Linked DNA regions of Homo sapiens: regions 1, 2, 4 and 5 are each linked to region 3. The links come from fine-mapping of genetic effects on gene expression. A gene starts in region 3. Each other region holds a variant in brackets. All regions are shown on one strand. Distances are from middle to middle.

The links. PIP is the estimated chance that this variant, and not a neighbour inherited with it, causes the effect.
Region 1: its variant is fine-mapped to the expression of CSF2RB in lymphoblastoid cells (TwinsUK, PIP 0.95).
Region 2: its variant is fine-mapped to the expression of CSF2RB in whole blood (TOPMed, PIP above 0.99).
Region 4: its variant is fine-mapped to the expression of CSF2RB in whole blood (INTERVAL, PIP above 0.99).
Region 5: its variant is fine-mapped to the expression of CSF2RB in whole blood (TOPMed, PIP 0.91).

The regions. Positions count from the first base shown.
Region 1 is chr22:36,865,812-36,870,811 of GRCh38, reverse strand. NCF4 (neutrophil cytosolic factor 4) reads right to left here. Exons shown (of 10, transcript NM_000631.5): 4 at 3,350-3,420; 5 at 270-397. NCF4-AS1 (NCF4 antisense RNA 1) reads left to right here and starts at 369. Exons shown (of 2, transcript NR_147197.1): 1 at 369-719. The variant A/G (reference allele first, on the strand shown) is at 3,008.
Region 2 is chr22:36,873,459-36,878,578 of GRCh38, reverse strand. NCF4 (neutrophil cytosolic factor 4) reads right to left here. Exons shown (of 10, transcript NM_000631.5): 8 at 2,796-2,926; 9 at 2,485-2,550; 10 at 564-951. The coding sequence ends at 756. Among named protein-coding and RNA genes, the nearest start is that of NCF4-AS1, 5.6 kb to the right of the region's middle. The variant G/T (reference allele first, on the strand shown) is at 3,190.
Region 3 is chr22:36,911,371-36,916,499 of GRCh38, reverse strand. It overlaps CSF2RB (colony stimulating factor 2 receptor subunit beta), which reads right to left and starts at 2,872. Exons shown (of 14, transcript NM_000395.3): 1 at 2,823-2,872. RefSeq lists an enhancer at 4,338-5,039.
Region 4 is chr22:36,944,640-36,949,768 of GRCh38, reverse strand. It overlaps LOC124900478 (a long non-coding RNA gene), which reads left to right. Exons shown (of 3, transcript XR_007068091.1): 3 at 1-1,524. It also overlaps the pseudogene LOC124905162. Among named protein-coding and RNA genes, the nearest start is that of LL22NC01-81G9.3, 18 kb to the left of the region's middle. The variant G/T (reference allele first, on the strand shown) is at 2,811.
Region 5 is chr22:36,952,439-36,957,567 of GRCh38, reverse strand. LOC124900478 (a long non-coding RNA gene) reads left to right here and starts at 2,908. Exons shown (of 3, transcript XR_007068091.1): 1 at 2,908-3,920. It also overlaps the pseudogene CSF2RBP1. The variant G/A (reference allele first, on the strand shown) is at 2,728.

The sequences.
Region 1 (5,000 bases), 46 kb after region 3:
CCAGTAGTTGCTGTGGCACCAAACTCTCTGGAGTCAATATCCCAGTCCTCGTCTTCCAATCCTTATTATCACATTGAAAGGCACACACCCTCTGTCCCTCCAAGCCTGAACATGACTTTCTAAACCCATCTAATAAATCAAATCATCCTGGAGTGTCCAGGGATATGGCTGATCTGTATTTTCCTTCTCTCCTTTCAGGGAAAAGAGATGCTTTTCCAGCAGGGACCCAGGGCTCTGGCCATGTGGAAGCCCAGGGGCTGGTCACTTACACTTTCCGGGTGCGCGGGCGGAGCCGGCGGAGTGCCTGGGGCACCTGCTCTGAGTCATAGGGCGACTGGTAAAAGAAGATCCGGACGTCCTCATCCATCAGCACCCAGACCGGCAGGCTGAGCAGGCTCTGTGTGGGTGAGACAGCAGAACCGGTGGGGTAGTCAGCAGAAAGATCTGGACACCCCAGCCTAGATGTCCCGTCCCCGAGCCCTGACATCAGCCCTCCTCTCTTTACTAATGCATGATGCCTGATAACAGAAATGCGTTGTTTAAAAGAATAAGAAAACTCAGCATGCTGAAGGTAACACTTCACAAGCTCTGCTCCTGGGTCCAAGGTCAGGAGAGGGACCAGGGGCTTGAGAAGAGTCCATTTGGAAAAGACTTAAAGTTCTCCAGAAACAGCAGTAATGGTGATGACAACTAACATGACCCGGCGGTGACTTTACCAGGTGGGTATCACATGCGCGCCCTTGCTCCATCTCATGACATCCCTTGAGTTAGGATCAGAGAGGTGAAGGGATATGCTCAAGGCCACAAAGCCTAGCAAGGGACAGAGCTGGGGCACCCAGAGCCATCTGCCACTAAAGGCTACCCAAAGCTTAAGGTGAGACAACAGTTGGCGGGGGTGGGGGGCTCCCAAAATAACCCAAATTAACAACAGTTGGTGGCATTATAGCCTACAAAATGCTTCCTGATACTTTATCTCATATCATAGTTGAGGAAACTGATGCTTGGAGAGGGAAAGTACCTGGCCCAGAGGAGCCGAGCTAAGTGACAGGGCCCGGACTTGAGCCCTAGTGTCCTTGTTTCATCCAAGCTGGTTACACCCACCACGATGCAAAGACTTTGAAGCTGTGAGGACGCGAGCACCCAGAGCCTGGCGGGGTCATCTCACCAAACTCCAAGCGCACAGGTCTGGGGACACTGAGGGTTGGCTTTGGGTGCTGAGGCTCCAGAGGCACCCAGAGCCCTGCAGAGGATCCCATGGGGGCAGCAGGATGAGGTGGGGTCGGGGAACTTTGTCCGAGAGGAACTGGGGATGCAGAGCCCGGAAAAGGCTGTCATATGGGGACAGCCTGGGAGGTGTTTAAGGAGCCAGGGGCTCCTGGGATCGAATCCCAGCTCTGCCTGTCACCAGCTGGGTGGCTTTGGGCAAACCTGGCTCCAGATGGTCATTAATAAAATGGGGACAATAATAGCCTCTCCCTCGTGGGATTGTGTGAGAATTAAATGAGTAAATACATGCAGAATCCTTAGAACAACACCAGGCATATACCAGGTGCCCATCAAAGTTAGATGTCATCATTGTTACTGTGATTTTCATTACAACGAGGCACAGTGGGTAAGAGCTCAAACCCTGGAGTCACAGAGATGTGAATTCAAATCTCATCCCACCTACCTAACTGCTCTGTCACACTTAACTCACAAGTTATTGAGGGGATTAAATAAGATTATTCATTTATCAATAAACGTGTATCAAGAGTCTCCTGGTTGCCAGTCAAAGCTCTTCACGCAGTTCCAGGCAGTTGTCATTATCATGTGATTCACATTCTTCATGAGGGCGGGGTGAGACCAGTGGGTAGGACTTACAGAGAGTTGGGCTTTTCTCATAGCTGCCCAACAATGGGACAGGCAGCCTGGGTCAGGGCGGAGTGGTAGTGAGCTCCCCATCTCTGAGGGTATGCAAGCACAGGATGGGGTGGCCATGGCAGAGATTCCTGCCCTGAATGATCTCTGGCTTCCAGGAACCCAATTGGACACAAAGAGGCAGAGATGGATCCTCTGGGCTGCTGGTTGCTAAGACCAGGTGTGGAATGAGGAGCCCCAGTTCCCCAGCCTCGCCTCCTGCCTTCTCTTCCTCCTTCCCTCCCTCCCTCCCTTCACAGCCCACTCCCCTATTCTAGCCCAGGGGGAGAAGGGTGGAGCCTCAGCCACCCTGAAGGAGCAGCTGGAGCCCACCCAGCTCCCCTCCCTCCCTCTTCCCTGCTCAGAGCCCAGGATTCCTGCAGCTACCTGCTCTCTCCTCCTTCCTCCCACCTCCTCTGCCCTCCATCTGCTCCTTCCCTCCATCAGGAGTCAAGATCTCTCACATTCTGGAAGCAGGTTCACAGTTTACAAAGCACTTTCTCATCCTGTTCTCGACAGATCCCAACTTCACTCCTGTGATACTAGAGGGCACTGCCCCATTTCACAAGTGTGAAAACCAAGGCCTAGAGAGGATGGGCAACTCACCCCAAATCACCCAGCCAGTCAGTGTCAGAGTCAAGACTAAAGGATCCTAGCCCAGCGCTCTCCAGCTGTGAGGATGCCGCTGGGCTGGGAGGAGGGCTTCGCTTGCCAGCTTCCTGAGGTCACTATCAGGTCTCTAGCGACGGTGCACTCACTGCCACCTCATGAGGAACACTGCCCCTTTCCTGGATGGCTGTGGCTGGTGGAAGTCCTTTCCTGACCACCTTGGCCTCTGCCTTTAAGATGCTCCTTCCTCTACGCTCCCATCTCATAGAGATGCAGAGTTTGCAAGTCGGAGAATACACAAGGGCCCCCAGCCAAGACCCATGAGTGTAGCTAAAATCCAGCCCATGTTCACGTAAGGGAGTGAGTTGTCCCAGAGGAGGCCTACTCTAGTTTGCACAAAGATGCTATATGAGCAACCTGCGGCCTGCTTGGCCACACCCCCATGATGGAGGCACACATATGTCTCCGTGTGATCTTATGATCCACCTGTTGGCATTCCCAT[A/G]GGACAGTGGGTACCTTGGGGGCAGACACTGGATGGAATTCACCTTTGTATTTTAACTCCTGGCATAGACATTCACCTGTGGGGCTTGGAGCATTAAATGAAGACTTGTCAATTCCTAGTGTGGCTCTTTTACCTTCTCCGTTGCTCCTGCTCCTATCTCTGGAACCCTAAGGACGCATCCTGTTTTACTCCCCAGACCAGGCCTTTAGGGATTGAAGATGGGGCCATCAGAGCCAGAGAGCCAGCCCCAGTTCCCAAAGCCATACCCAGGGATGGTACGTGGGCTCCCCCACCAATACTGCATGCCCTTCCACGTGCCAAGGTGGCAAGGCCCACTGGTACCTTCATGTAGGCGTTGAGGGCAGGTATCCGCATCTCGGCGATCTCCTGTTTCACACCCACGTAGACTTTGGCTGAGAAGAGACAAAGAGCTGTCCTAGGAGCCTGGCCCAACATGGCCCCGGGGCTCAGGGCTGCCCCTACAGGCCAGGAACCCTGGCCAGAGCCCCTTCCCGATGGCTCAGCATTCTTCCCTGTTATCTTTTCACAGCACTGAAGTGGCCACTCTGGCACCATCCAACTTTCATCCTCTCAGTTGTGCTATCACCAGCTGATATTTTTCTTGTCTTACTTTTTTATTTACTGCCTGTTCATCCAAGCGCACACACACACACACACACACACACACACACACGACTCTTAGTTCTAAGAGAGCAGGATTTTCACCTGCTTGGCTCACAGCTGTACCCCCATCACCCAGGACAGTGGCAACACCGGCTGCACATTCAAGCTACCCAAGGAGCTTGTAAATATCTCACTGTGTAGCACTTGCCCCAGAGCAATTAAATCAGAATCTCCGGGGGCAGGACTCAGGAACCAGGATTCTTTCCATCTCTCAAGGCACGTCCACATACCACCAAAGTTAAGAACCATGGGTCTAGAATCATGCCCAGATGAATGAGCATTTGTTAAGTGGATGAATGAACAATTCCTCAAGCTCAAGGCAGATGTTCTGGAGGAAAAGGAAATATGACGGGCTACCAAGAGACAAATGTCCCCTCCAGGTGCCTTCATGTGGGCGCACTGGTGGAACCATTCACCAAGAGAACCCCTACGAGGAAGCAAGTCTGAAACCTGCCTGGCTCCTGGTGTCCAGGAGATGGACAGAGGTGATGGCGGCGGCGGTAGGAGGGTCTGGGCTAGAGCTAGACATTGGGAGTTAGGAGCAAAAACGTGACAATTAAGTCCCAGACATGGGTCAGTTTGCCAGGGTGAGTGTTTGGAATGAGAAGACAAGGCAGGGGAGAGAGGATGTCTGCTCAGAGGATCCCCACCTTCCAAGGAGCAGCAGAGAAGGTTGATTCTGTAACAGAGAAGCTGAAGGAGTCTCTAGTAAGCTAGGAAGGGGATTGGGAGACACTGGTGCCTCAGGAGGTTGGAGAAAGCTTAACAGAGGAAGGAGTGGGGGTGTGAAGATGAGGCTTGGCACTGGCCATGGAAGCCAGAATTGATGGGTCATGGCCCACCTCACCGAGAGGAATTTCAGTGGAGTAGTCAGAGCTAAACCAAGCTGAGGAGTTAAGGAGAGGATGGCCATGCCAAGGTGAGACAGTGCGTGAATTTGATGCCAAAGGAAGAAGAAAGAGAACTTTGGGGGCCCTGGGGGCACGGAGGCTCAGGGAGGCTTGTAAGAATGCTGTTTCATGGCTCAGGATTGTTTAAAGACAGAAGAGGGTTGAGGCTGTGGAGACGCTTAGCAGAGGGAGTTGGTATATCAAGAGGAAGATGAATATACAAGGAAAAGGAGGGGTAGATTGTCAGGAGAGAGCCCCAAAAGAGAGAGGAGGGAAAATGATGGAGCCTGAGAGGGGAGGCTGGCTTAGAGTAGGCAAGACTCCTAGGGGGAGCTTCAAGTTCCTTGGTGGGGCTGGATGAGAAGGAGCGGGGTCATATGCTGAGACAGAGAGAGACAGAAACAGAGACAGAAAAAACA
Region 2 (5,120 bases), 38 kb after region 3:
TCATCAGTTAAACTGCTGTTTCCCTGGGGAGAGGGTCCACCAAGCTCCTCACACCACCATTGTGGGAGTCACACCTGTTTAATTTTTGGTAGATTAGGATAGAAGGAGATTCAGCTCAGAGAAGGAGATCCCGTTGCTTTGTGTCCCCCTCCTCCTGGATGAGACTAGAGTCCTCCCCCTGTGTCTACTTACAGTGGAGACAACCAACCCCGAGACCTGCCTTCCTCCTCCACAGAGCAGCAGAGACAGGAAGGCAGAGGAGAGCTTCTGACCCTCATCACACAGCCGAGGACTTGGCATTGGTGGAACCCCAGAGGGCACCCAGAGCAGATCACTTCTGTGGGGCAGGTGGCCAATCCCAGGAAAAGGGGAGCAGTGGGAGGGAGAAAGGGTATGGCTTGGGGACCCTCGGGTTTCCCCCCAACACAGGGACAGAGCAAGGAAATGGGGTGGCAGGACAGGGGTCTCAGAGCCAGGGCCCCTGCCAGATATAAATGACGCCCTGTGGATGCTCATTAAATGGTATTTTACTCCCCATGAAAGACACTCTTTCCCGCAGCCTGCCCCTTTCAGATGGAATGGTTTATTTAAATCAGATGTAAATAGTAGAAAGAGACAGATTACAAGCCCCACGGGTCCATTAGCCTCAAAGACAGGAAGTCTGCCCATCCTCCCAGGTTTTCCTGGTCCCAATCTCCTCTGAGAGCTGAAGGTTTTTGCTGGTGTCCCCTCACTGCTCCAGGGACACCGTCAGCTCATGGCATCGTGTTGTAGACCCTGTAGTTGTCCTTCTGCGTGATGTGCAGCTTCCAGGGGAAGAGGCGCTTCTGGGAGGGGAGGCCACGAGCCTGCCGCACCATGAGCGCTACGTCCTCATCCGACAGCAGCCGAACCAGATCCCCCTCAGCGTCCCGGTAATTCAGAGCTATGTCCTCTCTCTGGAACTCCCGCCTGCATGGGAAAAGTCAGGGATAATCAAAGGGCCTAAGCGTAAGGTAGGGGTAGGGAGAGGGGGTGAAAAGGGTTTTATGTCCTGAAGCCAGGAGTAAGAAAAAGTCAGAGCCTGATACAAGCCCGTGTCATCCAAGTAATCTAACCTCCCATTGTACAGATGGGGATATCGAGGCCTAAAAGGGAGAAGAGGCTGGGTGCGGTGGCTCACGCTTATAATTCCAGCATTTTGGGAGGCCGAGGCAGGCAGATTACCTGAGGTTAGGAGTTCAAGACCAGCCTGGCCAACATGGTGAAACCCTGTCTCTACTAAAAATACAAAAATTAGCTGGGCGAGGTAGTATGCACCTGTGATCCCAGCCACTCAGGAGGCTGAGGCAGGAGAATCACTTGAACACAGTAGGCAGAGGTTGCAGTGAGCTGAGATTGCACCACTGCACTCCAGCCTGGGCAACAGAGTGAGACTCCATCTCAAAAAAAAAAAGGAGAAGGAGAAGAGACTTTCACGGAAATTAGTGGCACAGCCTGAAATGTCTCGTGTATAAATGTGCTAAAGGATTAAGAGTTGTGAAGAAGAGTGGGTTTGACTGGGCACAGAGTGGGGCTGTATAAAGCCTCAGAGAGACACCTGTGTGAGGCTATTGAGGAGAACCTTGTAAGGACAGGAACTGTCTGGCCTGGGTGCGGGAAGATGCGCATCCTTCTACTTGGCTGGTGTACGTAGAAATTGATCTGAGCTTTCTACCAGTAATTTCACAGTGTGGGCCAGAAGCCTATGAGACTTGCAAATGCTTTAATCCCCAAATCCACTTCTTGAAAATCATTCAAAGGAAATGATCAGATAAGTCATCAAATAGGTTAACTAAGATGGTCTGTACAATGTTGTTTAGAGTAGTAAAAAAGCAGAAGAAATCCTAAGAGGCCAGCAAAAGCGCATGGCCATGTTAATGATGTAGCCACTGAAAGGTTTTGTGCAGCCAAAGTGACTTTTGTGTGTGCATGTGTGTGTGGGGTGTAAGTACTGAAGAAATCTGAGTGTACGTCACATAACGAGGGGAGTAAAAATATGAGGTGATTTCACTTCTTTGTATCTTTCTGACATGGTTACTGACATTTCTTTTTTAATATATAATGAGTTGGTACAAGTTTTATAGTCAGAAATGTAGCAATGCGGTTACCATTCTGTAAAATAACTGTCCAGCAATGTCCTGGACCTGGGGGGGTAGTGAGTCCCTGAGAGTGGATGGTTCAAGTCCAAGGCTTTTAGCCAGAGAGACTTTAGCTCCAGCTGCAGATCCGGATCTAAACCCACAACCTGCGTGAGCTCAACCAGTTCCCCTAACCTCTCTGCAGCTTCCCCGCTCATCTCTAAAGTGGGGAGATGCTGCCTAACCTGCAGGGCTGGGCTGCGGATAAAAAGAGAAGACAAAGTACACGCAAAACCCCAGCACCTTAATACTAGTGCTTAACATTTCTCCCTGCGCTCTCTTCTCCAGAGTATCTAACTCCCCAGCCCCATTCCCAGCCCCTCACCTTGTGAGCTCCAGCAGGTCTTTCAATAGGGGAGTGCTGCTGAGATCTTCCTCCACCGCGATGTCCCTAAGGGGGTGACAGGCTGGAGTAAGGAGGCATCAGGCTGGAAGTGGGGTGTGGGGTGGGGGAAAGGGGAATGAGGCTGGCCAGGCCACCCTGGACGTTGATGGCTTGTTACAGCATTGTGGCTCATCTGGGAGCCACTGGGGGCTTTGGAGTGGGAGAGGGACCCATGAGAAGGTGATGTGAGGGGCAGTGGTCGTAGGGATGGCAGGAAGGCTGGACAGGCCCCTCCCTCCCAGGCCACAGACTTGATGGTGCTGATGGTGTCTTCGTAGTAGTAGCAACGCAGCCAGTTGGTGGGGTCGTCCTCCTCAGGGAAGTCTTTGAGGATCTTCACGAAGGAGAGAGGGAAGATGCCCGTGGCTCCCCGGACAGTGCCCTGCAGAGGAAGAGAAGGGATGCCATGCTGGTGAGAGGAGAGGCAGCAGAGCCACGCCTCAGAGCCCTCAGCCCCGTTCTAGTGATGGGGAAAGGCAGATGAGGTCCGGGTCTTCTTCTGTAGAGGGAGGAGGGAAAGCGAGGAAGTTCGCTGAGCTGGTCACTTCTAAGAAGGCTTATATTTGGGTTTTACAATATGCCAGAATCTGGATTTATATAGAAAGCTGCTTTTATCTCACTCATTCACTTATTCATTCAACAAAG[G/T]CTTCTTGAGAACCAGCCACGTGACAGGCTCTGGGCTCTCAAAATAGATAAAAGTCCTTGGGCCGGGCGCAGTAGCTCACACCTGTAATCCTAGCACTTTGGGAGGCCGAAGCTGGTGAATCACTTGAGATCAGTAGTTCGAGACCAGCCTGGCCAACTTGGTGAAACCCTGTCTCTACTAAACATATACAAATTAGCCAAGCGTGTTGGTGCGGGCCTGTAATCCCAGCTACTCGGGAGGCGGAAGCAGGAGAATCACTTGAACCTGGCAGGTGGAGGTTGCAGTGAGCCGAGATCACGCCATTGCACTCCAGCCTGGGCAACCAGAGTGAAACTCTGTCTCAAAGAAAAAATAATAATAAAAAAATAATAATAAGTCCTTGCCCCCACGGAGTTTCCAGTATGATGGGGAATGACACGCTGTGCGCGCTGTGAACAATGACCTATCCAGTGAGTCAGATGGCAGCAGGTGTTACAGAGGAAAATAGAACAGGGGAGGAAGAGGATGAGGGGTGAGGAAGGGCCTGCTGCTGATCCCGCTCACTCACTCATTCATTCATCAGATACAACTGTGCCTCTACTCTAGACCAAGTAGCCAGAAATCAGACCCAGACCCGGCCATGGCCTGGGCTTTGGGCACGTGTTCTGTTCATCTTCACAACGACCCTATGGAACATGGATTATTTACATGCCATTTTACAAACATATTAACCAAGGCTCAAAGTGGTCCCCTCCCTGCCCCTCTGCCCCCACCTTCAACCTGAGGCCAGAAGTTAGCCAGCATACTGATAAGTAGGACTTTCCGGAAAACAGGAAGGCAATACATGTTTTCTATTTCTGGAAAGTGGCCCAGAGATACTCCTCAGGCCTCTGTAAGAGCCCTGAGTTCCTGAGATGGAGATCTATGATTAGGGTAAAATGGAAACTGCTAAACTGGCTAAACCAGTGGTCACTACTAGCTCCTCTCCAGGGCCTGGACGCTAGGGACCCAACCCAACTCTTAAAGGTCCTGGGACCCCTGGGGGCTGACCCTGCCTCTGGGCCTGTCCCAGAACCTCCTTCAACACTCCCCACAGGAGCACTAAGTCTGAAGACAGGACCTAATACAAAAGGCTGGTCCCAGGCCAAGGCCCAACACAGCCACTTCCCACCTCCACTCACTGAGTCAGAACACAGCCCTTCTGTGGGCCACACAGGGACAAAGCAGTGACTGGGAAAGTCCCTGGCTTTGAAGTTTCATTTAAGTCTCCTAATGACCCTAGTACCTGGCCAGGCGCCGCACACCCAGGCTCTGGGGCGAGCCCTGGCCATCTACCACCTCCTTTACCCTTTCCAGGAAGCCGATGAAGAAACATTTACAGAAAAGGAAACCGCAAGTTTGAGCAAGTTTCCAAAGGTCCACAAAGCTAGTGAAAAACAGAGCTAGGAAATGGCCCAAACAGGCTGACTCTGAGTTCACACTCTTCATCAGCAGCTTTTACTGCTGTGGGCAAGGTATGTACTGTTGTCCCATATTACACAAGTGGTTGCGATTTCACCCCTCAGGAGCAAATATCTGGAGAGCCATGTGATTGGTGCAATTTAGCAGTGCTGCTGGCATCTAGTGGAGAGGCCAGGGATATTGCTGAACAGCCTGCAATGCTCAGGACAACCCCACAAGGGACCATCTGGCCCCAATGTCAATAGTGCCCCTGCTGAGACACCCATTACAGACCAAGAAACTAAACTCAGTAGGTTAACTTACTTGCCCTAAGCAACCCATTTTTCAGGGTCAGAACCAAAGCATGAGCTCCAAGAATGTTCTGCTGCCACCGAACACCTGCCTCCCCAAAGGCTTTGTTCCCGCAGGCTCCCCAACCTGCCTGGATCTCCAGGGCTATCCTCAGATAGCATCTCTTCCCTGAGGCCTTCTGAGACCATCCTCAGTCTCT
Region 3 (5,129 bases):
GTAGTGACAGCCAAATGGAAGAGAAAACAATAAAGAAAATAACGAAGTATGTATAGAAGCCTAGGATGTAATAGGGGCACTTCAAATCATTGAAGAGAGGAGAAATCACACACTCATAATTAGCAATGTTAAGACAATTAGATGGTAATTATTTTTAAAAGTTACTTTACACATTACTCACTTCTCTAAATTCTAGGTGGGCTAAAAATCTCAAAGTCAAAACCAAAATAGTAAAATTATTAAAACTCTTTCTGTAATCTTAGAGGTTTCAAGACACCAAACCAGAAACCATAAAGTAAAAAGAGGTTTACAAGACACCTGTGATCTTAGAGGTTTACAAGACACCAAAATCAGAAACCATAAAGTAAAAAGTAATGACAGGTTTGACTTAACAATGAAAACATTTTTATATGACATAAGACATCTTAAACATGGTAAAGAAAAAGATAAGTCATAACCTGGGAGAATATATTTTCAACATATATAAATGGATTATTAATACACGTAATAAATGAGTCACTCCAAAAGTTAAGATGTAAAAGAGAATTCAACAGGAGATGAACAAAAATTTCTCCACATTCATCATAAATGAAATCCAAAAGGCCAATCCACATATAGAAAATGTACAACTTCACCCATAATCAGGGAAAGAAAAAAATCACGCGACATTGAGAATTTCCATACATAATATTGGACAAAATTAGAAGATTGATAATTTCTCTAAAGGTAAATTGGACCCTTTATGCACTACCTTGGGGACGTCAGCTTAGCTCAGCTACTTTGAGGCTGATTTGACAATACCTATTATAATTTCTAACGCACAACCTCTGCACAGCAATTCTGCATTTAGTAATTTAGGCTACAGAAACACTTTCACAGATGTGGAAAAATTAGAAACAATCTAGGTGTCGATCAACGTGAGATTAGATGAATTGTGGTGTACCCATCCTAATAAATGCCACATATTTCTTAGGGTTACTTAACGAGTTAAATCTGTATGTATTATTGTAGAAATTTGGAAATATTCCAAAATACAATATTAAGTGAAAAAATTAGGAATATATATATATATATATAAATAAAATAATCCCATTTCTGTAAAAAGAAAAACTACCATCCTGGCACAGTGGCTCAAGCCTGTAATCCCAGCATTTTGGGAGGCTGAGACAGGCGGATCATCTGAGGTCAGGAGTTCGAGACCAGCCTGGCCAATATGGTGAAACCCTGTCTCTACTAAAAATACAAAAATTAGCCACGTGTGGTGGCTCATGCCTGTAATCCCGGCTACTCAGGAGGCTGAGGCAGGAGAATCACCTGAACCCGGGAGGCAGAGGTTGCAGTGAGCCAAGATTGCACCACTGCATTCCAGCCTGGGCGACAAGAGTAAAACTCTGTCACAAAAACAAAACAAAACAAAACAAAAAACAAACAGGAAAAGAAAAACTATATGCTTGTATCATGCTTAGAAAATGTTCTGGAAGAATACATGTGGTGAAAAGAATAAGCTATGGAACTAGGGAAAAGAAATTGCTGGGGACTTTGTCTCTTGTGCTACATAATTCTAGATTATTCTAATTTTCATGAAGGTAGGTTTCTGTGTAGTTGCTTGTTTAGCATTAAATACATTCCTTATACAACTCATGAATTATCCTGTGGTGTTGGTATATCTGTATACTGGAACAATATAAATAAAACTGCTGGATGAAAAAAAGAGTGACCAAAAGCTAATAGGAAATGTTTACTCATTATAAAATGATTACAAAGCAGGAAAGATGATAGAAAAAAATTAGAATTGGGCTGTACAAAAATATAACAGCAGGGTTTTTGAAGACTAAAAATTGCACATATGCAGCTTGTCGCTAGCACCTGTCTGACAAGGTCCCAGTGAAACACCTGCCCTTTCATTCTCAGGGCCAGTACACACACCTGCACACACCCTGAAGCAGGCACCCCAGATACCCACCCACCCAGCCAGCATACTTGGGTACAGAACACACACACCTGGGCCCCAACCCAAATCAGCAACCCAAATCAGCAGGGCAGAGTGTCATAACTAAAAAGACAGACAGACAGAGAGAGAGACTGAGAGAGAGAGAGAGAGAGAGAGAGATTGCTGGATAGTGCCTGGTATGTCTCTGGGCAAAGTGCTGGGCTCTTTCTCAAGTTCAAAGTGAGCTTCTCAAGCCACACCGCACCCAGCTCTGGGCCTCAGCGCAGCAAGCTTCCAGGTTTCACCCTCTGCCTCTTAGTCTCTCTGCACTCCTGCATCCCCAGACATCCGCACATGCACATACACACACAGGCACACACACAAATGCACACACGGGCAAACACACGAGCATGCGTTCTCTCTCTTTCTAAACCAAGATGTCAGGGACTATCCATGCTCCCCATTCCACAGATGAGGAGACAGAAGCCCAGGGTGGACAGGGGGTGCTCTCACTACCACCAGCATCTTAGTGACAAAGCGAAGACAGACTATAGGTGCCTGACTCCCAGGCCTGAGCTCTCTTCACCCCACTAGGCGTCCTTCCCACCAGGACCAACCAGATCCCGCTAGCGAGGCTGAGTCCTCCCCAGAGCTCTCCTACAACACCCAAGCAGCTTGGCACCCCTGGCTGCCTCCCCATCCACTGGCCGCCCTAGGAGTCTGGGCTCAGGTCATCCTAAGAGGCCAAGCCCTAACTCCTCCAAGTCCCCAGGGCACAGCTACCCACAGGACGCCCCCCAGGCTCCCCCTGTCCTTTTTCATCCTGGACTCCCCACATTCCCCCCTGCTCTGACCCCACCCCTCAGCCCTGCTCCTGGACGCCGGGCCATACCTCTGTGTGGTGGGAGAGACCAGTCTTCTTCTGGAGCCTCTAGGCAGAGTGAGCCTCCCACGTTTCCTATTTATGTTGATGTCATCAGGAAACAGAGAAGCAGAAAGAGGAAGCAGTGCCGGCCCAGGCCTACTTTGCTAATAGTGCACGTGACTTTTCTTACTTCCAGAAAGCCTCCTACTCCAATTTACCTTCCTATAAACTCCTAGGCCTCCTTCAAGCCTCAGCTGACGCAGGGCCTCCTCCATGCAGCCTTCCCTGACTGCTTGATGGGGATGCAGGTGGAAGTGGCTGCAATAACCATAGCTGGTTTGAGCCCAGAGCCAGACAGATCTGTGTTGGACTTCCAAGTCCACTGCTTCTTAAAGCGTGTCCTTGTGCAAATCATCTGCGTGTTACTTCCCCAAGCCTCGGGACATCCATCTGTCTGTTACTTTTGCAGAAGCATCTACAAACCTGGAAGGACTGTTGAGGGAATCCAGTGAGATTCTGTGCAGGAAGACCTTAGCTCAGAGCTGGCCACAGGAGAACCCCCTACAAGTGGTAGCTGGTGGCATGTTGATTTCCCCGATGTCCTCTTTGCCCTGCCGCCCCACCCCACCATGTGTCATATGGTCATGTGTGTTCATGGCTGTCTTTCTTCTGACACTATCTTCAGTGCTGGCTTGTGTCCGGCTTGCACTTCCCTCCCAAATACCTAGCACATGGCCTGGTACAGAGGAGAAATTGCACCTTTGACTGTGTGCAAATGAATAGATGAATGAATGAATGAATGAATGAATGAATGAATGAATGAGTGGCTCCCTGAGCACAGCAGGGCCAGCAGAATTAAGGTCAGGTGAGTGAGGCAGTCTCTCGTGCTCAAAATTTAAACAGGCATTTAAAAATTCAGTAATTGTTGTAAGTAATATTTTAATGCAATATGGTTTAAAAAAATCCCAACTGATGCAGAAACTATTCACGGTGAACCAAATATGAAAAGTTTGAATAAAGACAAGATGAATCACAGTGCCAAGACACAACAAAACGCAGTCATATTTCTCCTACATGGGGCTGCCTCCCAGGAGAAAGGGCAGCAGGCAGGAATGAGGGGAATGGAGGGCAAGAATGAGGGGAATGGAGGAAATGGAGGGGCAGGAACCTGCCTCGAAGCCACTGGAATTCTGGCCTGATTGTTGTTCTTTGCTTTCCTCCTACCAGGAAGGGCAGGGTTGGCCAGGAAGAGCTGGCAGGGCCTCACCCTAGCAGAGAAAGCCCAGGGTAGAGGAAGGCATGTGTGGTTCTCTCAGGCACTCCGGTCAGTGTGAGGTCCCTGCCTGGCATGGAAAAACCCTGCAGGGGCTTCTCCAGGGCTGGAGAGGATGGAATTAAAGTGACGTCCCGGGCTCTCTTTTCTCCCAGGTGTCCCCACTCTGCCTGTCTTTGCTGAGGTCCTCTGTGGGACTGGGAGGCTGCGGGCCTGGATGCCCTCAGGAGCACAGAGGATGCTGTCTGGTGGAGAAACGAAGAACCCGAGACTCTGAGTCAAAATCACTCCGGACACCAGACCCAAAATGTGAAGGAGCTTTAGGAACACCTCAGCCAATTCACTTGACTGACCCTTTCCTTTTAAAAGTCATCATAGAGCAGCAGGGGATAAAAATCTACATTTGAATGAGTCTAACAGAGTTCTCTCAATAAGTATTAAAAGTTCTAAGCGAGAAGAATCACACCGTCAGGAATTCATTGAATGTTTTCGTTTGTTTGTTTGTTTTTTCCTTCAGTGGTATGTAAAATACCGTGTCTTGCAATTGACGATCTTTTAGAGACTAAGAAACCCAAGAAAATGTTGGCAAGAACGTAGTACTCATAATGACCAGGGCTTGAGCATTTACGCTGTGAGCAGACCTTCGGCTGGGGGCTTCTCCATCTCTTCCCAATAACCTTTATGTAGCTGTTACTGTCTTCACCTTACAGATGAAGAAATTGAGGCATGAAAAGGAAGATAACTTGTTGAAAGTAGTAACTCGTATATGTTAACATTGCATTTTTTTCCATTTCCATTTTTATTCTGAAACTATTTCAAAATACAGAGCGTTAAAGGAATGATACAAAGAACTCTCACATACCCTTCATGTGGAAACCCCCTTTGAGTTTCGCTAAGCTTCTCAATAATGGTTTTGTAACAAGAAAATCCATCCGGGACTTTGCATTCTCTCTAAATGCATGGCTCTTAGTTGCCATGTCTTTCGGGCCTCCAGTTTGAAACAGATGCCTTGTTTTTTCCTCGACATCTCGAAGACTGCAGGTTGGTTGTTTTGAATAATG
Region 4 (5,129 bases), 33 kb before region 3:
TGATCAGCAATTGTACTCCTTGGTATTTACTCCCATGAGTTGAAAACATATCCACATAAAAACCTGCACATAGATGCTTATAGCAACCTTAACCGACAAAACTTGGAAGCAAAAAAGATGTCCTTCAGTAGGAGAATGGATAAATAAATTATGATACACCCAGACAATGGAATACTATGTAGCACTGAAAAGAAATGAGCTATCAGCCATGAAAGGACACGGAGGAAACTTAGCTGGATATTACTAAATGAAAACAGTGACTCTGAATAGGCTACATACTGTATGATTTCAACTGCATGACATTCTGGAAAAGGCAAAACTATGGAGAGAGAAAAAGGATCAGTGGTTGCCAGAGGGTAGAGTGAGGGAGGGAAGAAAAAGTGGAGCACAGAGGGTTTTTAGGGCAGTGAAACTATTCTGTGCCATGTTATAATGCTGGATACCTGTCAAGATGTATTCATGTAAACTATAGCCCTTGAGTGATAATTATGTATCAACATAGGTTTATCAGTTGTAACAAATGTACCACTGTTGCCATGGATTGAATGTTTATATCCCTTCAAATTAGTGCGTTGAAATCCTTTTTGCTTTTTTTTTTAGTTTCTTTTTTTCTAAGTTCATGTCAGATAGGTAATATGCCCACATGGTAGCTGACAGAGCAGAAGCATCACCATCTTGGACAAGCACTGCCATTCTAAAGTTCCCCTTGATCAAAAATTGCCTAAATCCAAAGGTCATCAGCCTAATGACTAAGGTCAGCATGACCATAAGCCACAAATGACATCTCCGACCAGAAACATTTCAACCATAAGATAAATCCCTCCCTGACCAGAGACAAGCCAGCCCGGAGATAACTTCCCCCCCGGCAGAGAGATGTCAGCCCCAACATAACCTCCCCTTCTGCCAGAGACATTCCAACCCCACCATAAACTTCTCCCCCACACAGAAACATTCCAAGCCTGTGATAAAGCTCTCTCACTCTAAAACCAATATATACTCTTGTTGTTTATGAGCCACCGGTCTATGTTATTTTGGTTATAGCAGCCCAATGGGCTAAGACGATTGTAGTGCAGGCTGTTGATAGTTGCAATAGAGAATCCTCCTGACTGAAATTGGCCAGAAGCCCCTTTCAGGTTTATTCTCCAAAATAAACCTGTTTTTGACTGTTGAGCCCCTTTTCTGGCTTCTTTCCTCTTTCTTTAACTCTTACAGTAACAAGGTTTGAAGGTGGCACATCTCACACATGCATAGGAACACCCAATCATCACGTCTATGAATTACAAAATAATCTGTGTTGAAATCCTACCCCACAAGGTGATGGATTAGGAGATGGGCCTTTTGGAGGTGATTAGTTCATGAGGGCAGAGGCCTTAGGAATGAGATCAGTGCTTTTATAAAAGAGACCTGAGAGACTCCCTCGCCCCTTCGGCCATATGAGGTTACAGTGAGAAAGCCTCACCTATGAGGAAGCAGGCCCTAACCAGACACCAAATCTGCCAGCATGTTGATCTTGAACTTCCCAGCCTCCAGAACTGTGAGAAATAAATTCTTTTGTTTATAAGCCACTGGTCTATGTTGTTTTGGTTATAGCTGCCCAGTGGGCTAAGACGATTGTAGTGTGGGCTGTTGATCGTTGGGGAGGCTGTGCATGTGTGGGGCAGGGATTATATGGGCATTCTGAACCGCCCACTCAATTTTGCTGAGAACTTAAAACTGTTCTAAAAAGTAAAGTCTATTAAAAAAATAGACTTGTATTTTATAGTACAAGAGTACCTGTACCCCCACACACTTCCCACTCTGGATATTATCAGTTATTTTCCCAGTAATATTTACCAATGTGGTGAGTAAAAGAACTACATCTCATTTTAATTTGAATATACAGCCACACCTCATCTTATTGCACTTTGTTTTATTGTGCTTTGCAGATACCGTGTTTTATACAAATTGAATGTTTGTGGCAGCCATGCTTTTGGCAAGTCTACCATCACCATTTTTCCAACAGCATGTGCTCACTTCATGCCTCTGTTATAGGACCAATGGGTTCATATGCCCACTGTGCAGTAACAGACCCATTACATAGTGACAGCAGGGTTTGCAGCAGAGAAAGTTTAATGATTGCAGAGTGCTGAGTGACGAGATGGGAGGAGGCCCTCCCGTTTATCTCACCAAGGAGCTTTGGTCTGGGGTTTTTAAGGGGATTATAGAGGGTGAGAGACTCCCTCCATAATTGGAAAATTGGGGTTGTTGATTGGTCGGGGGGAAGGGGGGATGAAATCATCACGATATGGAAACTGCATTCTTTGGTGAGTCAGCCCATTGTGGGGTCCTTCAGACCAGCTGGGTCGGTAGTTTCATCAGTGTATGGGACCTGAAGGACTATCTCACAGGGAAAACTAAACATTTTATAATGTTCACGTTGTTATCTACGGAGCAGTTAAGGGGAACCGTGATCTTGTAACAGGGTCTATGTGATTTTAGTACGACAGGCACCAGACAGCTGTGAGGACGCAGGCTGGAGAGCAGGCCGACCTCATGATGGAGGCCAAATGTGCTGCAAGCGTGGGTGACTTTTATTTCTCCCCCTTCCTTCTTCCCTGATTCATTTCATAAAGTTTATAGGGGCAGTTTCATCTCTGTGTCACCTTTTGGTAATTCTTGCAATATTTCAAACTTTTTCATGATTATTGTCTCTGTCATGGTGGTCTGAGATCTGTGATGTTATTACTGCAATTGTTTTGGGATGCCATGATCTGTCATAGAAGACAGTAAACTTAATCAACAAATGTTCTGTGTGCTCTGACTGCTCCACC[G/T]ACGGGCCGTTCTCTTATCTCTCACCCTACAGTGAGAAGCCTTCATCTATGAGGAAGCAGGCCCTAACTAGACACCTAATCTAGCCTCCCTCATCCCAGAGACCCAACAATAAATAAATTAGGCCAGTTAATAACCCTACAATGGCCTCTAAGCTTTCAAGTAAAAGGAAGAGTTGCACACATCTCTTACTTTAAATCAAAAGCTAGAAATGATTAAGCTTCACTGAAAGCCTAGATAGCCTGAAAACTTGGCCTCTTGGGAAAATAGTCAAGTTATGAATACAAAAGAAAAATTCTTGCAGGAACTTAAAAATACTACTTCAGTGAACTCATGAATGAGAAAAGAAAACAGTCTTATTGCTGATATGGAGAAATTTTAGTGGTTTGGATAGAAGACCAAGCCAGCCACAACATTCCCTTAAGCCAAAGCTTCATCCAGAGCAAGGCCTTAATGCTCCTCAATTCCCTGAAGGCTGAGAGAGGTGAGGAAGCTGCAAAAGAAAAGTTGGAAGCTAGCAGAGATTAGTTCGTGAGGTTTAAGGAAAGAAACCATCTCTGTAACATAAAAGAACAAAGTGAAGCAGCAAGTGCTGATGGAGAAGCTACACAAAGTTATCCAGAATATCCAGCTAGGATGATTAGTGAAGGTGGCTGCACTAAACACAGATACTCAATGTAGACAAAATAGCCTTTTTATCGGAAGAAGATGCCTTTTATTTGAAGCTGCAATGCTTCAAAGCACAGGCAGAATCTCTCGTTAGGGGCTAATGCCACTGGTAACTTTAAATTGAAACCAATGCTCATTTACAATTCCAAAGAACCCTAAGCCCCTTAAGTATTGATACAGTTGGCCAGGTGCGTTGGCTCACGCCTGTCATCCCAGCACTTTGGGAGGCCGAGGCAGGTGGATCACGAGTTCAGGAGATCGAGACCATCCTGGCTAACACGGTGAAACCCCGTCTCTATTAAAAATACAAAACATTAGCTGGGCGTGGTGGTGGGCACCTGTAGTCCCAGCTACTCGGGAGGCTGAGGCAGGAGAATGGGGTGAACCCAGGAGGTGGAGCTTGCAGTGAGCCGAGATCGTGGCACTGGGTGACAGAGTGAGACTCCATCTCAAAAAAAAAAAAAAAAAAAGATACAGTTTGGCTCTGTGTCCCGACCCAAATCTCATCTTGAATTATACTCCCATAATTCCCATGTGTTGTGGGAGGGACCTAGTGGGAGATAATCGAATCATGGGGACAGTTTCCTCCATACTATTCTCTTGGTAGTGAATAAGTCTCACAAGATCTGATGGTTTTATCAGGGGTTTCTGCTTTTGCGCCTTCCTCATTCTCTCTTTGCCTGCTGCCAACCATGTAAGATGGGACTTGCTCCTCCTTGCCCTCCACCATGATTGTGAGGCTTCCCCAGCCACGTGGAACTGCAAGTCCAATTAAACCTCTTTCTTTTGTAAATTGCCCAGACTTGGGTATGTCTTTATCAGCAGCATGAAAACAGACTAATACAAAAATTATGCTAAATCTACTCTGCCTGTGTTTTGGAAATGGATCAGTAAAGGCTGACAGCACATCTGTTTACAGCATGGTTTAGGAATATTTTAAGTTCACTGTTGAGATATAATGCTCAGAAAATATATTTCTTTCAATATATTACTGCTTATTGCCAATGTACCTGGTCACCCAAGAGCTCTGATGAAGATACACAAGATTAATGTCGTTTTCATGTCTGTGAACATAACAGTTATTATGCAGCCCTTGGATCAAGGAGAAATTCCTGCTTTCAAGACTTGTTATTTAAGAAACACATTTCCTAAGGCTATAGCTGTCATAGACAGTGATTCTTCTGATGGATCTGAGCCAAGTAAATTGAAAACCTTCTAGAAAGGGTTCACTACTCTAGATATCATTCAGAACATTTGCGATTCATGGAAGGAGGTCAAAACATCAACACTAACAGGGTTTGGAAGATGTCAATTACAACTCTTATGGATGACTTTGAGGGATTCAAGACTTCAGGGGAGGAAGGAACTGCAGATGTAGTGGAAATAGAAAGAAAACTAGAATTAGAAGTACGGCCTGAAGATGTGACTGAATTGCTGCAATCTCATGATAAAACTTGAACAGGTGAGGAGCTGCTTCTTACAGAGGAGCAAAGAAAGTGGTTTCTTGAGATAGAATCTACTCCTGGTAAAGATGCTGTGAACATGTTGAAATAACAACAAAGGATGAAGAATATTAAATCAACTTAGTTGACAAAGCAGCAGCAGGGTTTAAGAAGATTAACTTCAATTTGGAAAGAAATGCTATCAAATAA
Region 5 (5,129 bases), 41 kb before region 3:
CACAGGAGATCCAGTCATTTAAAAGAGTGTGGCACCAGCCAGGCATGGTGGCTCATGCCTGTAATCCCAGCACTTTGGGAGGCGGAGGCAGGCAGATCATCTGAGGCTAGGAGTTTGAGACCAGCCTGGCCAACATGGTGAAACCCCGTCTCTACTGAAAATAGAAATATTAGCCAGGTGTGGTGGTGTGCGCCTGTAATCCCAGCTACTTGGGAGGCTGAGGCAGGAGAATAGCTTGAACCAGGGAGGTGGATGTTGCAGTGAGCTGAGATCGTGCCACTGCACTCCAACCTGGCAACAGAGCGAGACTCCGTCTCAAAAATAATAATAAAAACATAAAAAAAAACTAAAATAAATGTGTGTGGCAGCTGCCTCTGCACTAGTGCTCTCTCTCTCTCTCTCTCTCTCTCTCTCTCACTTGTACCAGCTTTCACTGTGTGACGTGCCTTCTCTCTTCACCTTCTGCCATGATTGTAAGCTTCCTGAGGCCTCCCCAAGAAACGAAGCAGATGCCGGTGCCATGCTTCCTGTACAGCCTGCAGAGCTGTAAGCTAATTAAACCTCTTTTCTTTATAAATTACCCAGTCTAAGGCATTCATTGATTTACAGCAATATGAGAATGACCTAATATGGAAAATATCCTACTCTCAGTGCCAATTTTCTGTATTAGGTCATTTTCATGCTGTCATAAAGAAACACCCAGGACCAGGTAATTTATAAAGAAAAGAGGTTTAATTGGCTCACAGTTCTGCAGGCTGTACAGGAAGCATGGTGCTGGCATCTGCTCAGCTTTTGGGGAGGCCTCAGGAAGCTTCCAATTGTGGCAGAAGGTGAAGGGAGAGCAGGCACGTCACAATGAAAGCAGGAACGAGAGAAAGAGAGAGAGAGATCAGCGTAGGGGTAGGTACCACACACTTTTAAATGACCAGATCTCCTGTGAACTCAGAGTGAGAGCTCACTCATCCCCAAGGGGATGGCCCAAGCCATTCACGAGGGATCCCCCAACCATGATCCAAACACCTCCACCAGGCCCCACCCCCAACATCGGGGATTACATTTCAACATGAGATTTGGATGGGGACAAAAATCCAAACCATATCAATCAGTTTGATCTTTTAAGGTTTGTTTTTAAGCTTCCTTAGAGGACTTTTATTATTATTATTATTATTATTATTATTATTATTATTATTGAGATGGAGTCTTACTTTGTTGCCCAGGCTGGAGCGCAGTGGTGCAATCTCTGCTTACTGCAATCTCCGCCTCCTGGATTCATGCAATTCTCCTGCCTCAGTCTCCCAAATAGCTGGGATTAGAGGCACCTGCCACCACGCCTAGCTAATTTTTGTATTTTTAGTAGAGATGGGGTTTCACCACGTTGGCCAGGCTGGTCTCGAACTCCTGACCTCAAGTGATCCACCCGCCTTGACCTCTCAAAGTGCTGGGATTACAGGCATGAGCCACCATGCTGGCCTAGAGCAGTTTTAGAATGGCCCTCTCCTGGGCTGGTTTAGTGCTGGCACTAAGGTGTTTTTCTTCTTGGTTCTCTACTGAATGTGTGAGGTGTTCAGTAAGAATTCCTATTCTGGCTTGTTGGAACTTGAACATCTCCCAGACCTTGGTGAGTTCTGGAAATTGTTCAGATACATCTCTCTGTGTACTATTTACACAGTCTAGTGGAGCTCCACCCCACACATGCATGGTTTAGTGTGCAGCAGTACATGCAAGAGGATCTCTGTGTAGATTTGCTGGGTCTCTTTCTCTGTGCAGCTCTTTCTTCTCTTGTTTTCTACACCAAATTCCAGCTTCTTTTGCCTCTTCAGACTCAGACCCCTATCGCCCAACACAGCAAGACTGCCATGGTCATGTTGGAGTTCTTTTACCTACGTCACAGTCAAGAAAGTGGTAGAAAGGTAGAAAAAGGTAGGCACGGTGGTTTATGCTTGTAATTCCAGCACTTTGGGAGGCCGAGGTGGGAGGATCACCTGAGGTCAGGAGTTCATGACTAGCCTGACCAACATGAAGAAACCCCCGTCTCAACTAAAAATACAAAATTAGTTGGGTGTGGTGGCGAGTGCCTGTAATTCCAGTTACTCGGGAAGCTGAGGCTGGAGAATCACTTGAACCCGGGAGGCGGAGGTTGCGGTGAGCCGAGATCACGCCGCTGCACTCCAGCCTGGACAACAAGAGCGAAACTCCCTCTCAGAAAAAAAAAAAAAAAAAGAAAAAGAAAAGAAAGGTAGGATGATCATAGGACCTACCGTGTTTGTTTTCACTCTCTGAGCGATCATATAGAAGGACTCCTCTTTTCTAACAGCTGAAAACAGATTTTTAATATCGTTTGTCCAGTTTTATACTTCTAAAGTAGAAGGCTATACCTGGTCCTAGTTACTCCATTATGGCCAGAAGCAGAAGCCTCTTCTCCCTCTGCCCATGCCTGTCTTTTGCCCCTCCTCCTCCACTTGGAGCCATTTGGCCCATTTGGGTGTTGACTTTGATGCAAGTCAGGGGTGCCTGCATTGGCGTCTGTGCATGTGGTTGTGGGTGTGTGTGTTTGTATAGTGCCTGGGTATACGTGAGTCCTTAAGGTGGAAGTGGGGCATGGGAATGGGGTGCAGGGGAAGTGGGCTGTGGGAATGGGGTCCAGTGGAAGTGGGGTGTAGGAATGGGGTGCAGGGGAAGTGGGGGATGGGAATGGGGTGCAGGGGAAGTGGGGCATGGGAATGGGGT[G/A]CAGGGGAAGTAGAGGTGTGACGGAAGTGGAGAGGTGTGAAATAGCTTCTTGGGAAGGGCAGAGTTCCTCCTTGCTGCTGGGAAGTGTCATTTGGGGTTCTGGCAGCGTTAAGAGCCTCCCCACAACCCCCGCCTCCGATGGTAATCCTGAATTTAAGTGAGACCAGCTGGTGTGGTTTTGTTCAGCTGAGCATGGCCAGGGCAGGAAGACTGAGAGTTCACCATTTTCTGTACCGAGAAGCCCTGCTGCCTCCTCAGGAACTCCATTCCTATCCTGTCCTCCTTCCTGGCTCGTTCCCAGCATCCTCAAGGTCTTGTCAGCGCCCTCGTAGGGTGGTCAGGTCCCATCAGGGTTGTCTGAGCATGTGTGTGCAGGTATGTGTAGGTGTGTATGTGGGTGTGTGAGTGGGTGGAGGCTTGCGTGTTTCATGGTTTCAGAAGTGTTGAGAAAGAAGAAAAGAAGACCTCTGTCTTTTCTTCTGACATCACAAAGGGCAAGAAACTAAGAAATGCCTCAGGCTCCTGCAGAGAAGAAGGGATGGGCAGTAACAGCTTGGGGCAGGTGAGGAAGGATGGTGGAGTGTTTGGTGTTGAGTGAGGTGGCCCAAAGGGAGTCTGTGCATCCTCAAGACCTGGGAGGAGACAGGCTCCATCTGTGGTGGGTGGATCCACAAAGCTTATCTGCCAAAATCACTTGAAGAGCTTAACGCAGCCCACTTGGGCATCAACCCAGTAGCACCCAATACAAACACACAGAATCTACACCAGCACTGCGGGGAAGGGTGAGAGTGGCAGAGGAGGAGATCCACACTAGGTGGAGAAGGCGCAGGACCAGGCTCCCCGTACCCCCAACATGGCCTTCTCCCTCCTCATCGGCCATATCCCTGGGAAGACGAGAGGGGTGGATGGGCCTTATCCTGGCCCACATCTCCTTTCTCAAGACCTGGGGTAGGATGGCAATTCATGGATGGAGGAATAACAAGACCTGGTGAGATCAGCTTGGCCTGGCTCCCAGCTGGGCAGGAACACAGGACTCCAGGGCATGGAAGACCCCACCCCAGCCCATGGCCAGCATCCACCTGTGCCAGCACCTGCCTGTCCAGAGCTGACCAGGAAAATGGTGCTGGCCTGGGAGCTGCTCCTCATGGCCCTGCTGGCCCTGTGCTGGGGACTTAGCCTGGCAGGGGCAGAAGGTGAGTTCCGTGGCTCCCACCCCTTCCCTGCCCCCTCCTCACTGCTGCACCCTGGAGGAGGCCCGCACCATACCCCCAGGACCCTGCCCACCCACCCTCCTCCTGCTCCCCTTGCTTCGTCTCTTCCCCGGCCTTCCCTGGGCTTCCTTCACTTCCCTCCTCCTGCACATTCCTGCTCATCCTGTCCTGGAAAGTCCAGCTGAGTGTGTCTGGGTTCCCAGCCCATATTTCTCAGCACGGCACTCCAGGCCCCCAGGCTCCAGGGTGGCTGCTCTGACCGTTTCCCTTCTCCTCCTTCCCCAGCAGACACTCGCTGCACCTCAGTGGTTCCACCTCCAGACCTTTGCTCCAGCAGCGTCCTGGCTTGGGGTTCATCTCAAGGCTGGGTTGATGCCTGGGGGTCTGGGGGGCAGGGCCTGTCGCTGCTGCGTGTCTCCATTCTGCAGGGATTGCACGGTGCTTCTGTCAGGAGAGGAGGGTCCACAGGCAGAAGCTCACCCTGGCAGACCCCCTTCCCAACCCAGGGCACCTCTGCCCCAGATCAGCTGGGGGTGGTGGTGATAAGGGACCCTGCAGGGGAGAGAGGTGACCCCTTCCTGCCCCTCTTGTCAGAAACCGTCCTGCTGCAGACCCTGCGCTGCTACAGTGACTATACCAGCCACATCACCTGCGGGTGGGCAGACACCCAGGATGCCCAGCGGCTCGTCAACGTGACCCTCATTCGCCGGGTGAATGAGTCTGTGACGTTGGGTGCAGGGGCCACGGGTAGGGGCTACGGTGTCCCCTCTGCCTGGCGTGGGATGGTGGTGTAGAGAGGGATGTGTCAGGTCAGCCTCGGGGTGGGAGTAGACAGAGGACAGAGGAGGACGGAGGCCCTCCCGGGAGCTCCTGCTCAGCCAGGCACCTGCCAGGCACTACTGTCTGATCTGGGGTTTCTGGGGAGCACGTTCTACACTGATGTCGTTGAGGATGGTGCTGGTAACAATGGTGACAATCTTCTCTTATTTTGTCACAATTTAACACAGTTGCCCCACATGACCTATCTTAGTTCCTCCTCACTGCGAGGTGGGCAGGGCCAGGCCACGACGCCCAGTTCACAGATGGGGAAACTGAGGCCCTGGAGGTGAGGCGCCAGCCCTGGCCACAGATGGGGAGTGGCAGAACAGGCCGTGTGGACGTGTTTGGGAGGGGGCTCCATGCTCTCCCAGG